Linked DNA regions of Homo sapiens. The protein of the gene in region 3 interacts with the protein of the main gene of each other region in a pairwise test. Each region holds a gene or a part of one and is shown on either strand. Other genes may lie near its edges.

Evidence for each region. The genes of interacting proteins can lie anywhere in the genome.
Region 1: the proteins of AGT (region 3) and SLFN12 interact in binary tests that used the Homo sapiens proteins (3 or more experiments, as listed by UniProt).
Region 2: the proteins of AGT (region 3) and EIF2B4 interact in binary tests that used the Homo sapiens proteins (3 or more experiments, as listed by UniProt).

The regions. Positions count from the first base shown.
Region 1 is NC_000017.11:35,410,379-35,415,500, reverse strand, and holds the end of SLFN12 (ribonuclease SLFN12), read left to right. Parts: intron 1-3,573; coding exon 3,574-4,163; 3' UTR 4,164-4,579; downstream 4,580-5,122. UniProt on the Homo sapiens protein: Ribonuclease which is part of an E2/17beta-estradiol-induced pro-apoptotic signaling pathway.
Region 2 is NC_000002.12:27,363,809-27,367,338, reverse strand, and holds the end of EIF2B4 (translation initiation factor eIF2B subunit delta), read left to right. Parts: intron 1-137; coding exon 138-265; intron 266-402; coding exon 403-580; intron 581-1,454; exon of another isoform or gene 1,455-2,262; intron 2,263-2,440; coding exon 2,441-2,621; intron 2,622-2,739; coding exon 2,740-2,939; 3' UTR 2,940-2,987; downstream 2,988-3,530. UniProt on the Homo sapiens protein: Acts as a component of the translation initiation factor 2B (eIF2B) complex, which catalyzes the exchange of GDP for GTP on eukaryotic initiation factor 2 (eIF2) gamma subunit.
Region 3 is NC_000001.11:230,704,094-230,711,136, forward strand, and holds part of AGT (angiotensinogen precursor), read right to left. Parts: intron 6,761-7,043; 5' UTR 6,731-6,760; coding exon 5,902-6,730; intron 2,108-5,901; coding exon 1,840-2,107; intron 245-1,839; coding exon 100-244; intron 1-99. UniProt on the Homo sapiens protein: Essential component of the renin-angiotensin system (RAS), a potent regulator of blood pressure, body fluid and electrolyte homeostasis.

The sequences.
Region 1 (5,122 bases), on a different chromosome or scaffold from region 3:
TGTTTTTGTTACATTTGCTTTTGGGTTCTTGGTTATGAACTCTTTGCCTAAGCCAACGTCTAGAATTGTTTTTCTGATGTTATCTTGTAGAATTTTTATGGTTTCAGGTCTTAGATTTAAGTCTTTGATTCCTGTTGGGTTGGTTTTTGTATAAGGTGAGAGATGAGGATCTGGTTTTATTCTTCTACATGTGGCTTGCCGATTATCCCAGCACCATTTGTTGCATGGGGTGTCCTTTCCCCACTTTGTTTTTGCTTGTTTTGTTGAAGATCCAATTGAACTGTAAGCATTAGACTTTCTTTCAGTGTTCTCTATTCTATTCCACTGGTCTACATGCCTATTTTTATATCAGAACCATGCTGTTTTGGTAACTATAGCTTTGTAGCATAATTTGAAGTCAGGTAATGTGATGCCTCCAGATTTGTTCTTTTTGCTTAGTCTTGCTTTTGCTATGTGGACTCTTTTTTGGTGCCATATAAATTTTAGGGTTATTTTTTCTAGTTCTGCGAAGAATGATGATGGTATTTTGATGGGAATTGCATTGATGTAGATTGCTTTTGTCAGTATGGTCATTTTCACAATATTGATTCTACCTATCCATGAACATGGGATGTGTTTCCATTTGTTTGTTTCATCTATGATTTCTTTCAGCAGTGTTTTGTGGTTTTCCTTGTAGAGATCTTTCACCTCCTTGTCTAGGTATATTGCTAAGTATTTTATTTTATTTTGCAGCTGTTGTCGGAGGGATTGAGGTTTTGATTTGATTCTCAGCTTGGTCACTCTTGCTGTATAGCAGTACTAATTTGTGTACATTGGTTTTGTATCCTGAAACTTAATGGAATTCATTTATCAAATCTAGAAGCTTTTTGGATGAGTCTTTAGGGTTTTCTAGGTATACAGTCATTTTTCTGTGAAAAATGACATGGGAATTTTGATAGGGTTTTCGTTGAATCTGTAGATCACTTTGGGTAGTGTGGACATTTTAAAAATATGATTTTTTCAATCCATGAACACAAGCTATCTTTCCATTTATTTGTGTCTTTTCCAATTTCCTTCATCAGCATTTTATAGATATCAGTATAGAAATCTTTCATCTCCTTGATAACATTTATTATCAAGTATTTTTTGTAGCTATTGTAAATGGGAGTGTTTTCTTGATTTCTTTATAGGATAATTTGTTGTTAGTGTATGGAAATGCTACTGATTTTTGTATTCTGAAAATTTACTGAATTCTTTTATTTGTTCTGATCATTTTTTGGTGGCATCTTTAAGGTTTTCTATATATAAGTTCACATTGTGGGCAAACCGTGACAATTTAATTTCTTATTTTCCAGTTTGGATTCTTTTTATTTCTTTTTTCTTCCCTAATTGCTCTGGCTAGGACTTCCATATTGGATAGAAGTGGTGAAATGGGCATCCTTGTTTTGTTCCTGATCTTAGATGAAAAGCTTTCAATGTTTCACCATTGAGCATGGAGTTAGCTCTAGGTTTTTTATATATGGTCTTTGCTGTGGTGAGGTACATTCCTTCTATACCTAGTTGGTTAAGAGGTTTTTTTAAATTACAGAATGTTGAATTTTGTAAAATGCTTTTTCTGTATCCGTTAATATGAGCATATAGTTTTGCCCTTCATTTTATTAATGTGGTATATCACAATTATTGATTTTCACATGTTATACTATGCTTGCATCCCAAGGATAAATCCCACTTATTATGATGAATGATCTTTTTTTTTCTTTTTTTTTTTTTTTGAGACATGGTTTCACTCTTGTTACCCAGGTTGGAGTGCAATGGCGCTATCTTGGCACCCTGCAACCTCCACCTCCCGGGTTCAAGCGATTCTCTTACTTCAGCCTCCCGAGTAGCTGGGATTACAGGTGCCTGCCACCATTTCTGGCTAATTTTCTGTATTTTTAGTAGAGACGGGGTGTCACCATGTTGGCCAGGTTGGTCTTGCACCCCTGACCTCAGGTGATCCACCTGCCTTGGCCTCCCAAAGTGCTGGGATTACAGGCGTGAGCCACTACACTGGGCCGAATGATCCTTTTAATGTGCTGTTGAATTTGGTTTGCTAGCATTTTGTTGAGAATTTTTGCATCTAGTTTCAACAGTGATATTGGCCTGTAACTTTCTTTTTTTTTGTAGTGTCCTTGACTGACTTCATGATCAGGGTAATGTTGACCTCATGAAATGAGTTTGGAAGTATTTCCTCCTCTTCAATTTTTTTGGAAGAGTCTGAGAAGGATTGGTATACTCTTGTATTTGTGAGTGATATCTTTAATCAACTTTGAAAAAACTATAATTGTTTATCTCTTCAAATATTGCTTATCTTATTTTTCTCTCCTTTCTCTTTGTGGGACTTATAAATTTGCTAGACCTTTTGACAGTTTCGGATATATCTCTTATCTTCTGTTTTTACCTTTTTTTTTTTTATTGAGTTTGAGTTCGGACTTTTGCTACCATCCTGTCTTCCTATTGACTAGTCCTGTTTTCTGCTATGCTCTGTCTGCTGTTAAATATTATCAAATAAGTTCTTATTACCACCTACTGTATTTTTCAGTTAAGGAATGCCCACACAATTTTTATCCCTCAATTTTAGTTTTTCTAAGGCTGTAAGAGAATAAGGACATCTTCATCTTTTCATCTATTTTATTATTATTTTTTGTTTTTAAATATATTACAGTTAAAGTCCCTCTTTGATAACTACAATATCTGAAGCACTTGTCAGTCTTTTTCTCTGATCTGATTTTTCTCCTGTTTTCTAGTAATTCATTCTGATTTTTATTCTGTCTCGTAATTTTTTATTGTATCATGGATTACAAATTGTAGAGACTTTGATAGATATTACATTTCTCCAAAAAGGGCTATATTTACTTCTGACAGGTAGTTAGAGTACCACCCATTGCTTTTATTCTTTTGAAGTTTTTTTATCCTTTTCTAGGTATAATAGTTTTTAATTTTGCCGTTACTACTAGGTCATGGCTTTTCTATTGCTGTAATGTCGCTGGTGTTTACCAAGATCCCTCCACTCTTTTGGGACTGGAATTCCAGTCTGTGTTTCCTGAGCACCATGAGGCTGAAGAAACTTACATTCAGCTCTTTAGTCTCCCAGTTGATATTTTCTTCTGTGTTTCCAGCATCTGACCTGTATTAGCCAATGAGTTGAGGGAAATTTGTATGTAGACTTTGGCTTCTTCTCTGCAGCTTCATTTTCTCTGAGATTTTACTTCTCATATTCCAGCTCTTCTTACTTCTTTTCCTCAGCCTAATAAGACTGATGATTTCTCCTTGGGTTCTATTTACCCATGCCATGATATAGAAAATCTACTTAGGGAAAAAGCAGGGGTGAATGTGAAGCTACTTTCTGTGTTTCACCTCTATCAAAGACTGTGGCACTTCAAATACTGCTTTTATTGGTGCTTTCTAGTTCTTTAAATTATTGTTTGAATATATTTTATACAACTTTTACAGTGTTTTTGATGGGAAGATTGGTTTTTTACAAGCTACTTTGCCATGGCTTAAATGGGAACTTCCTAGTGTTTTATAATTTATTATTATTATTTCCTTATTCAGGGCTATCAGGAAGGATAACGTATACTCCAGAAAACCTTTGCAGAAAACTGTTCTTACAACATGAAGGACTTAAGCAATTAATATGTGAAGAAATGGACTCTGTCAGAAAGGGCTCACTGATCTTCTCTAGGAGCTGGTCTGTGGATCTGGGCTTGCAAGAGAACCACAAAGTCCTCTGTGATGCTCTTCTGATTTCCCAGGACAGTCCTCCAGTCCTATACACCTTCCACATGGTACAGGATGAGGAGTTTAAAGGCTATTCTACACAAACTGCCCTAACCTTAAAGCAGAAGCTGGCAAAAATTGGTGGTTACACTAAAAAAGTGTGTGTCATGACAAAGATCTTCTACTTGAGCCCTGAAGGCATGACAAGCTGCCAGTATGATTTAAGGTCGCAAGTAATTTACCCTGAATCCTACTATTTTACAAGAAGGAAATACTTGCTGAAAGCCCTTTTTAAAGCCTTAAAGAGACTCAAGTCTCTGAGAGACCAGTTTTCCTTTGCAGAAAATCTATACCAGATAATCGGTATAGATTGCTTTCAGAAGAATGATAAAAAGATGTTTAAATCTTGTCGAAGGCTCACCTGATGGAAAATGGACTGGGCTACTGAGATATTTTTCATTATATATTTGATAACATTCTCTAATTCTGTGAAAATATTTCTTTGAAAACTTTGCAAGTTAAGCAACTTAATGTGATGTTGGATAATTGGGTTTTGTCTATTTTCACTTCTCCCTAAATAATCTTCACAGATATTGTTTGAGGGATATTAGGAAAATTAATTTGTTAACTCGTCTGTGCACAGTATTATTTACTCTGTCTGTAGTTCCTGAATAAATTTTCTTCCATGCTTGAACTGGGAAAATTGCAACACTTTTATTCTTAATGACAACAGTGAAAATCTCCCAGCATATACCTAGAAAACAATTATAACTTACAAAAGATTATCCTTGATGAAACTCAGAATTTCCACAGTGGGAATGAATAAGAAGGCAAAACTCATTTTCTCAAAACAAAACTCCAGGAATTCTCTGGATCTTCTTGAGCTACTTTCACACTATTTACTTGGAAGGGTTGTGGATTTCCTAACTGGTCAGCTAGCACCTTTAAAGAACTCACAAGAATGGTTACTTTATTTTTCTACAAGCAGTTCTGAATAAAGAAGCGTGAGATGACAAAATATGGAAAATCCTCTCTAACTAAGATTTGAAGGAAAGCAGCCAAGGTATAAGTAGAAACTCTTTTAGACAACGAGAGTTTTCATCAACAAGAGGAAGGAGCACCAGGGTCTGGCATTTCCCACTCATCTAAGATGAGCTAAGGGACCAAGATGAAGCTCAGCAGAGTGGGATACACCCTTGGCTGGGTGTTCTGAATTCATGCCTAAGACCTTCAGTGGGATCTTGGAACAGAGAATAGAGCCTAAATTACCCATCAGGGCCTCAGCCTTCTCCACCACTGTGTCCAATGCCAGAGGAAGTCGATCAATGCATTCAGTATTCTGAGAAAAGTTTTACTAACACATATTTTGCCAAACGAGATGATG
Region 2 (3,530 bases), on a different chromosome or scaffold from region 3:
GGTTTGGCCATTCTGACTTGTGCCATCTCTGAGCCCTCTATAGGCTTGTCATCATACACATATTCAAGCACCTGGCATGATCATCAGAGGGATAAAAGTGTCCATTTCTTGTTCACTAAGGATTTTACTCCATTTAGGCCAAGTCAGAACTTCGAGCAGCCATTGATCGGTATGTGCAAGAGAAGATTGTGCTAGCAGCTCAGGCAATTTCACGCTTTGCTTACCAGAAGATCAGTAATGGAGATGTGATCCTGGTATATGGATGGTATGGTCCAGACCTTGTGACTGAGCAGATTGGGAGTTGGAATGATCTGAAGAAGGGACTACCCACTTGCCTTTGGGAATAAGTTAGTCATCAGTTACTGACATTTATAACTGAATCCTCCTCTTCATTCACTCTAGCTCATCTCTGGTATCACGAATTCTTCAGGAGGCTTGGACAGAGGGCCGGCGGTTTCGGGTGGTAGTGGTGGACAGCCGGCCATGGCTGGAAGGAAGGCACACACTACGTTCTCTAGTCCATGCTGGTGTCCCAGCCTCCTACCTGCTGATTCCTGCAGCCTCCTATGTGCTCCCAGAGGTAAGTACAGAGGAAAAGGACTCCAAAGTTGGCGGTGAAAAGGTGTAGTAGTATAGACATAATCTCACCTTCCCAAAGTTACAGTTTTGTTTTTGTTTTGAGATAAGGATGGAGTGCAGCGACGTGATCACAGCTCACTGCAGTCTTGACCTCCTGGGCTCAGGTGATCTTCCCACCTCCGCCTCTGAGTAGCTGGGACTACTGGTGTGTGCCACCATGCCCAGCTAGTTTTTTATTTTTCTTGTAGAGATGGGATATCGCTACATTGCCCAGGCTGGAACTCCTGGGCTCAAGCAGTTCCCCCTGTCTCGGCCTCCCAAAGTACTGGGATCATAGGCATGAGCCACTGTGCCCAGCCACAATTATTTAAAAATATTAGAATTATATAGCCCTGGCTTGGTGCCATGGCTCAATGCCTGCAATCTCAGCACTAAGGCAGGAGGATCACTTGAGCCCAGGAGTTCAAGACCAGCCTGCTCAACATAATGAGACCCTGTACACACACACACACACACACACACACACACACACACACACACACACCCCACCCCACCCCCACCCCGGGCATGGTGGCATGCGCATGTAGTTCCAGCTACTTAGGCTGAGGTGAGAGGACTGCTTGAGTGCGTGCGCGCGCGCACGCACACACACACACACACACACAGCTACTTAGGAGGCTGAGGTGAGAGGACTGCTTGAACACACACACACACACACACACCCGGGCATGGTGGCATGCGCATGTAGTTCCAGCTACTTAGGAGGCTGAGGTGAGAGGACTGCTTGAGCCCAGGAGGTTGAGGCTACAGTGAGCTGTCATTGCACCACTGCACTCCAGCCTGGGTGACAGAATGAAACCCTGTGTCAAAAAAAATAATTATATAGCTCTGTTTCTATTTAATTGGAAAAACACTGACAGTATATTACAGCAGTCTAGCTATTGCAAAAACATTACATTAAACTAGCAACCAGGAAGAGGGAACAAGACAAAAGTAACTTCAAAGTTTACTTTTCCTGTGGGAGATTTGGTGGGTCAGTGGTCAGGTGTTTTCACAGAAGAAAAGCCATCATTAAGATTTATTAGGCCGGGCACAGTGGCTCAAGCCTGTAATTCCAGCACTTTGGGAGGCCGAGGAGGGCAGTTCACGAGGTCAGGAGTTCACAATCATCCTGGCTAACACAGTGAAACCCCGTCTCTACTAAAAATACAAAAAATTAGCCGGGCGTGGTGGTGGGCGCCTGTAGTCCCAGCTAATCTGGAGGCTGAGTCAGGAGAATGGCGTGAACCCAGGAGGCAGAGCTTGCAGTGAGCCGAGATCATGCCACTGCACTCCAGCCTGGGCGACAGAGCGAGACTCCATCTCAAAAAAAAAAAAAAAAAGGATTTATTAATTGCCGGACTCAGTGGCTCACGCCTGTTATCCTGGCACTTTGGGTGGCTGAGGCGGGCAGATCACCTGAGGTTGGGAGTTCGAGACCAGCCTGACCAACGTGGAGAAACCCCGTCTCTACTAAAAATATAAAAATACAACAAATCAGCTGGGAGTGGTGGTGCATGCCTGTAATCCCAGCTACTCGGGAGGCTGAGGCAGGAGAATCACTTGAACCCAGGAGGCAGAGGTTGTGGTGAGCCGAGATCGCGCCATTGCACTCCAGCCTGGGCAACAAGAGCAGAACTTCATCTCAAAGAAAAAAAAAAAAAAGATTTATTACTTGTTGTCTGTTTTTGTTTCTTTCCCTTCTTTTCACAGGTGTTGAGATTTATTACTTGTCTTAATGTTGCTGTCCTGTAAGTAGGGGACCTTATTTTGCATTGATACAACAATGACATTTTTTTCTTCCTCTTCTCCTGTGAAACAGGTTTCCAAGGTGCTATTGGGAGCTCATGCACTCTTGGCCAACGGGTCTGTGATGTCACGGGTAGGGACAGCACAGTTAGCCCTGGTGGCTCGAGCCCATAATGTACCAGTGCTGGTTTGCTGTGAAACATACAAGTTCTGTGAGCGTGTGCAGACTGATGCCTTTGTCTCTAATGAGCTAGGTAAGGAGGCAAAAGAGAAGCCTCCAGCTACCTGTGAAGACTTGAGAGGGAGGGAGAGGGGCGGATAAACTAGAACTTCTTTTCTGAAAGAACATAATGGGTACGCCTTCCATTGCAGATGACCCTGATGATCTGCAATGTAAGCGGGGAGAACATGTTGCGCTGGCTAACTGGCAGAACCACGCATCCCTACGGTTGTTGAATCTAGTCTATGATGTGACTCCCCCAGAGCTTGTGGATCTGGTGATCACGGAGCTGGGGATGATCCCTTGCAGTTCTGTACCTGTTGTTCTACGAGTCAAGAGCAGTGACCAGTGACGGGGGAAACACAGGGTTAATAAATGCCATACTCCCTACCCTCAGCAACTCTGCTGCCTTTGTTTCTCTTTTAGCATCTCCACCACTTAAGTTAGGAGTCCAGACTTCACAACCCCTTTTATCACCTGCTACTCAGACCTTTGTGAAGACCTGCTCAAGTAACTAGCTCCATGCCAGTACATTGGGACTAACCTGAAGACCCGTATAAAGAACCAAAACTACCCAAATCAATCATTCACTGAGCATCTACATGCCAGACACTAAACTGGGTGTGAGGAGGAATATGAAAACAAATAGTCCTGGGCTGAGTGCAGTGACTCATTCCTGTAATCTCAGCATTTTGGGAGGCTAAGGCAGGAGGATTGTTTGAGCCCAGAGGTTTGAGACCAGCCTGGGCAACATGGCAATCCGGTCTCTACAAAAAATAAAAATTAGCTGGGCATGGTTGTGCTCATCTGTTGTTCCAGCTACTCAGGAGGCTGAAGCCAGAGGATTGCTTGAGTCCAGGAGGTAGAGGCTGCAGTAAGCCATGATTGTGCCGCTGCACTCCAGCCTGGGTGACAGAGTGAGACCCTGTCTCAAAAAGAGAGT
Region 3 (7,043 bases):
GGCCCCACCCATAGCCTCCTCTGTGTCCCTTACATCCATGCCTCCCACCCTGTGCACACTTGGAACCCAGGTCAGGCACAGACACAGGCTCACACATACCTCCCCCACCCTGATGCGGTCATTGCTCAATTTTTGCAGGTTCAGCTCGGTGTGCAGAATGGCGGGCAGCTCAGCCTGGGCGAGCAGGTCCTGCAGGTCATAAGATCCTTGCAGCACCAGTTGGGGCATGGTCAGGTGGATGGTCCTGGGGAGATGATGCACAGTTAGGAAGGCTCCAGGCCACACAGTGAGGGCTCTCCCAGAGGCCAGGCAGGCTTATGCTCCTTGCACCCAACCCTGACGACAGGGATGTTTGCTCCCCCCATCACCCAACTAAGTCATCCTCCCCCTTGGGGAAAATTTCAGCAAAACCTACAATAAAAATCCTTCATGTCATTTGCAATACTATGTGAGGGACATAGAAGATTTACCGATGAGGACCTAGGAATGGTTGTCCTTTGGTGCATTCTGTTTTTAGGTTGGCTGCATTGAAGGTGTGTTACTTGGGTAATTTTTAAATGCTATTCTCTGAAATAATGCACTGTGTCTTACTACTGCCACAGCAGTGTTCTTGATGACATGACACCCATGAAAAGGAGAGAGGCAGGAGGGTACAGTGTCAACCTCGTGCTGGACACGTTGCTATGTCAACTCGATTGATCTTCGTATAGAGCCTCTTCCATCTTTTGGCATCCTTCAGAGCCCATGGACATTTCCAGTGATGTATCAAGCACTTATAAGAGCTGACAGTACACCCATGTTTACAGGGTACACTGCACTATTCACAGCAGCTCAAAGGTGGAAGCAACCCACGTGTCCATCGATGGATGAGTGGATACACAAAAGGTGGTAACCACATGCAATGGAATATTATTCAGCCTTCAAAAGGAAGGACATTCTGACATGTGCTACAACATGGGTGAACCTCGAGGACATCGTGGTGGTTGCCGGGGCCAAGGGGAAGGGGAAATGGAGAGTTAGTGTTTCAGCAGGACAGAGCTTCAGTTTGGGAAGTTGAGAAGATAAATGGAGATGGACGGGGGTGATGGCTGCACAACAGTGTGAATGGGCCTAGTACCACTGAACTGTGCACTCGAAAATGGTTACGATGGCAAATTTTGTTACGTATATTTTACCATCACAATTTTTAAAACATAAAAAACACCCAGAGTTGATGTCAAGCCATCGTGTCACTCAATGCCTGCCTCTGGGAGCAGATTTCCAGGCCTCGATGATCTGGGGTGATGTGTAGTTTGAGTCCAGGGCTCTGTGGAAAGGAATTGCAGCAGGAAAGAGGAGCTAACAACACCTATCCCCACCCAGCCGCCAGCCGCCAGCAAGGGCGTTCTGGAGTCAAGGGACGCTCCCTGAGAAGGCCCCACCCCCGCTCACGCGAAGTCCGAACCCTCCTGGCAAGTCAGTTCCAAGAAGCTCTTGGATGTCACAGGTGTGCTGTGTGTCAGGTGTGGGACCAAAATGGTCCTCTCTCAGAGGGCGGATTGCAATGTTTTCTCCCCCTCCAAAACTACCAGGCAAGTGTAAGTGTAGAAAAAGCATTCTTCCTCTCCTCCTTTACCTTGCCTGCACTTGAAAGACAGACACTAACTGGAGAGCTGGGTGCTGGCTGGATAGAGGACTGGTAGACAGACACACAGGCCGCCTGCCCAGCCCCGTGCCACCGCGGCCCTGCCCTGCTCTGCACCCAAGGCTCAGCTCAGGTGTGTCTACTCCCCACCCCGCCCCCAGCCTGGGCAGGACAGTGTGGCTCCCACATTCCAGGGGAGACCGGGAGGCTCCTACCGGGGAGATAGTTTCTTCATCCAGTTGAGGGAGTTTTGCTGGAAAGTGAGACCCTCCACCTTGTCCAGGTCAGAGGCATAGTGAGGCTGGATCAGCAGCAGGCAGGCGCTCTCAGTGAAGGGCACTTGAGTCACCGAGAAGTTGTCCTGGATGTCACTCCAGTGCTGGAAGGTGCCCATGCCAGAGAGCATGGGAACAGACACTGAGGTGCTGTTGTCCACCCAGAACTCCTGGGGCTCGGCCAGCAGGGAGAAGCCCTTCATCTTCCCTGAAATCCAGACAGGAGACAGGGAGGGAAGAGTCACCCAAGACAGGGGCAGGAATGAGGGCTGGCAGACACCAAAGGCCCAGATCCTGCCCCTCGCCCTGCCTCAGCCTCCTTCCTTGGCCCCCCCCAGGCCACTCTGCATTCTCCTGGCCACAGGACCGCAAGTGTGGCTCAAATATTTCTCCTGTAAAATGCAGCCATTTGAGTTCACTGAGGCAGCCCTAACCGCCACCTGCAAGACACACAACATGCCAGGCACCAAACCGGGGGTTTTGCATCTGTCACCTTAAGGGACATAAGCCACTGGTACCTGCCAGGTCAACTCAAACCTAGAACTGTCCTGACCCAAAGGCTGTGGTTTGACACACTCACTTTTTAAAAAATTTAAGAGATGTTATTTTTTAGAGTGACTTTAGGTTCACAGCAAAATCGAGCAGAAAGTACAGAAAGTTCCCATATAACTCTTGTCCCCCACTACACAGCCTCCCCCGTGATCAACATCTCACACCAGCGTGGCCCATTTGTTGCAACTGACGAACCTACACTGACACGTCCTCAGCACTCAAAGTTGATAGTTTTCTTTGAGTCTCCCTCCTGGTGTTTTACATTCTGTAGGTTTGGACGCACGTAGAATGACATGTGGCCACCACCGCACTATCCCACCACTCCTAGAGGCCCCTGCTCATACTCACTTTTTAATCCATGTCTAGCCCCAGCCATGGCAGAGCCCACCAGCTGTCCTGTGGCCCCCACCCTCCCCCATCACAGTCATAGAATACAGAGTGGGCCACGCAGGCCCCGGAAACGAGGGCTCCATTCCTCAGCAGCCCTTGCTACTGGGGAGACTCACACAACCTCGTTGTGATGAATGGATTTGCACACTGGGCCTTGGGGGCAGGGGTGAGCCCTCTGTTTCCCCTCCTGCTCACAGGGCCGTGCAGATGACAGAGAACTCGGGAGAGCCCGTTGTGGGAGAAGGACACAAATTTGTGTGTGACGCAGTTACCTGGGGTCTTTCCATGACAGCAGCCCACCCTCTGCCTCGACCTTACACTAGCACATCCCTGCCCTCGGCTGTCCTCCCACTCATCCTGAAAGGCCTATTCTGCGGTTGTTCTTAGGAGAATAGGGTGAAGTTGTGTATAAGTTTGTCACAGAACAGTCCCCTGGGCACGTGGCACTTGGGAGTCTGAGTAGAGATGGTTCAGAAACAGTGAGGTCTCCCTTTGTACTGAATTGGAGGTCCCAGCATGAAAGTAGGGCAGCTGGGAGGACAGAACTGGCAGGCAGGAGCTGGGCATGGCTGTGCCTCCCCTGGGTCCGGGTCTCGTAAGAAGGCAGTGGCAGACCTGGCATATTTCTCGTCCTCAGTCCTCGGAGCACTCAGTCTCGGAAGGGCATGTGAGCGGGAAACTGCAGGGTTCCCCTTGCACGTTCCCTGCAGGGACCTCGGTGCTGCCCACCTGGGCTGGCAAGGCTTTTAGTTTAGAGGGGGGAAAGGGACAATTCTTTTCTTCCAACAAACTAAACTAAAAAAGGGAAGCTGCCTCCCAAAAGACGCTGGGATTTGACATGAGAGTGGCTGCCGTCTTCCCTCTGCTCGTCTGACATGCACAGCTCACCATTCTCATCCGGAGGCTAGGTAAATCTGTCGAGGTCAAGTCAGGACCTGGTGTCATGGAAACCACCAGGGCCAGCGCCCCATGCTCAGGAGCACAGCAAGCACTGGGCAGACGGTACCCTGGAGCCCATCAGGCCCCAGATCCTCAGGTCCTCTCTAGTGGGACACATCTAGCTGCCTGCTGAGGTCATGTAAATAGAACATCATTGCTAAAGGGAAACCTAGAGGTCCCGAGACAGCCCCCGATCTCCTCACTGGACAGACCATGTGGGCAGGAAGTGGCTGCCTCCTTTGACGGAAACTGAGGCCAGCAAAGTTAGGAAGTGGGGCAGGGTCAGGGCAGCATGCGGTGGAGGCCGGCGAGGATCCTGGGCTTCCTTTGAGTCCCGATGTGGTTGGCTTTTTTATTCTTCCTCCTCTTCCTCCTGGCCTGGCTCTGCGGTCTGGGTCAGGTGGATGTGCTCTCTTTCGAAGGGAGACCCATTTCAGATGCCACTGGCTTTCTTGCCTTTGCCTTCTGCAGGACCCTCCTTCTCAGTGAGCGCTCCTCCCAGCACTTCTCCTAGGGACAGCAGGCTAAGTCCATGTGTCCCTGCTCTGCCCTGCACAGTGTGCTGCCACCCTCAACCGGGCAACCCTCGGGCTGGCCTCTGCCCCTGTGACCAGTCAGTGCCAGGGCTGAGCAATCCCCCCATCTATCACCTCTCCCTGAACCCGAAGGGAAAGACCTCAAGGAGGTTGTTGTGGTAAGAAAAATCACTATGCGCCACTGAACCTCTTTCTCCACAGTCTTGTCTTTCACCTCCCGCCTGGCTCTCTGTCCCTCACGAGGTTAACATCTTGACAGAGCCTCCTCAGTGTCTCTTAGACACACCCCTCAGCCCCACCCCACCCATGGATTTGCCGAGCTGCTCCCTGAGCACGTGTTCCCGTGACTGTGTGCCTGGACTCTTGCGTAACCTTCAAACAATCCTCCCTGCCTCCAGTCTGCACACGGCAGGCTTCCGGGATGACCTCTGAACAGAACGCGTCCCCATTCCCACACCTACCAAGCATGGCGTTCAAAGTGTCTCCAGCTCTGCCCTCCCCAGGCCCATTTTCTGGTTCAACACTCATGCCAAGCCAACCGCCCCATCCTCGTTCCTTGCCCCAAACTCTGCAGGCTGGGCTCATCATGCTTGCTCCTAGCTTCACCAGCCCTGTTGCCCTCACTGCCAGGCAAGGCCTGCTCTCCGCTCCCCAGTGACCTCTGTCCTCTGAGAGCCCCGAGGCTTCCCTGAGTTACCTTGTGGAGCACGTTTCCCTGCAGCTCCAAATCCTAGGCATTTGCCCATTGACCTTTAAAAGCCTGGAGGCAGGGCCTATACAGCCCTCCTCTGGCCTCCTCTGAGATGCCAGGCTTAAAGTCTTACAAGTAGCAAATCCTCAACAAGTATTTGTTAAATGAATGCTTTAAGCAATCTGTGGCTGGGTGCAGTGGCTCACACCTTTAATCCCAACACTTTGGAAGGCAGAGGTGGGAGGATCGCTTGAGGCCAGGAGTTCAAGGCTACAGTGAGCAATGATGGCACCACTACACTGCAGCCTGGGTGACAGAACAAGACCCTGTCTCAATAAAAAAAAAAAAAAAAATCAACAATCTTTGTAGTAGAGGGTTTTCAGTAATGCCCCTCCTAACATGAAAGGGATTTAAGCAAGCCAATTGCTTATTTCTGCATGGGCCAGGGACCCCAGTTCCTGACCTTCTCAAGAGATATGAACCTGACCCTTCTGAGTGTAGAACTGGGCTGTGGGGCCAGGAGATGTGGGTTTCAATCCCAGGACCCCCACTGGTGGCTGTGCCATCTTGAGCAAGGCACTTTGTTTCTCCGAGTCTCTATTTCTTCACTGGTAAACAAAGGCACAAATACCTCTTCACCACATCATAAGGGGATTAAATGATGTAAGAAAAAGGATGTTGTATAGTCGTGCACATAGTAGGGCAGCAGGTCCAGGAGGTGGACGGCCCATCCAGGGACCCAGCGGAGCAGCCACTTCCCCACTTCTCAAGGGTGGTCACCAGGTATGTCCGCAGGGCTGCCCCCTGCCCATCTCCAAGGCCTGACTGGCTGATCTCAGCTACACATTGGATACTAAGTCCTAGGGCCAGAGCCAGCAGAGAGGTTTGCCTTACCTTGGAAGTGGACGTAGGTGTTGAAAGCCAGGGTGCTGTCCACACTGGCTCCCATCAGGGAGCAGCCAGTCTTCCATCCTGTCACAGCCTGCATGAACCTGTCAATCTTCTCAGCAGCAACATCCAGTTCTGTGAAGTCCAGAGAGCGTGGGAGGACCACAGGGGTATAGAGAGCCAGGCCCTGCACAAACGGCTGCTTCAGGTGCAGGCCTGGGGCTGTGAACACGCCCACCACCGTGGACAGCAGCAGCTGGGCCTGGCTATCAGCCCTGCCCTGGGCCACTAGCAGGCCCTGTACAGCCTGCAGGGCAGACAGGACCTTGTGCGCATCCAGCCGGGAGGTGCAGTTCTTGTCCTTCCAAGGAACACCCAGGATTGCCTGTAGCCTGTCAGCTGTGTGGTCCAAGGCTCCCAGATAGAGAGAGGCCAGGGTGCCAAAGACAGCCGTTGGGGAGAGGACGGTGGCCCCATGGACCACGCCCCATAGCTCACTGTGCATGCCATATATACGGAAGCCCAAGAAGTTGGCCAGCATCCCGACCATTGCGGCCCTCAACTTGTCTTCGGTGTCAAGTTTTGCAGCGACTAGCACCAGCTGGTCCTGTAGGGCCTTTTCATCCACAGGGGATGTCTTGGCCTGAATTGGAGCAGGTATGAAGGTGGGGTCTTTGGGCTTCCCGGCATTGGCCTTTGCCAGCTGCTCACAGGTACTCTCATTGTGGATGACGAGGTGGAAGGGGTGTATGTACACCCGGTCACCTGCAGCCAGGCCAGCCCAGGCCAGGAGGCAGAGGATGGTGGCCCTCAGGCTCACACCGGCAGGAGCCATCTCAGACTGGGGTGCTCGCTTCCGCATACCCTGAAATATCATTTTGCAAAGGGTGAAAGGTGGTTATTAACTGACCTTTAAGTGCCATCTAACCAGATCTTTCATTGTCTCAATATTCCCTGTCACCATTTAGCCCAGAATAAATCCATTCATGTCTACAAAAAAAAGAAGAAATGGATTCAAAGCTCCATGGAAAATATCTACATGATCCAAGTGCAAAATGCACCAATATCAGCTGAATTATGTCCTACCTCCCCCAACGGCCATAATGCCCGTGTTGAAGTCCTCAACCCCAGGACCTCAGAATGTGACC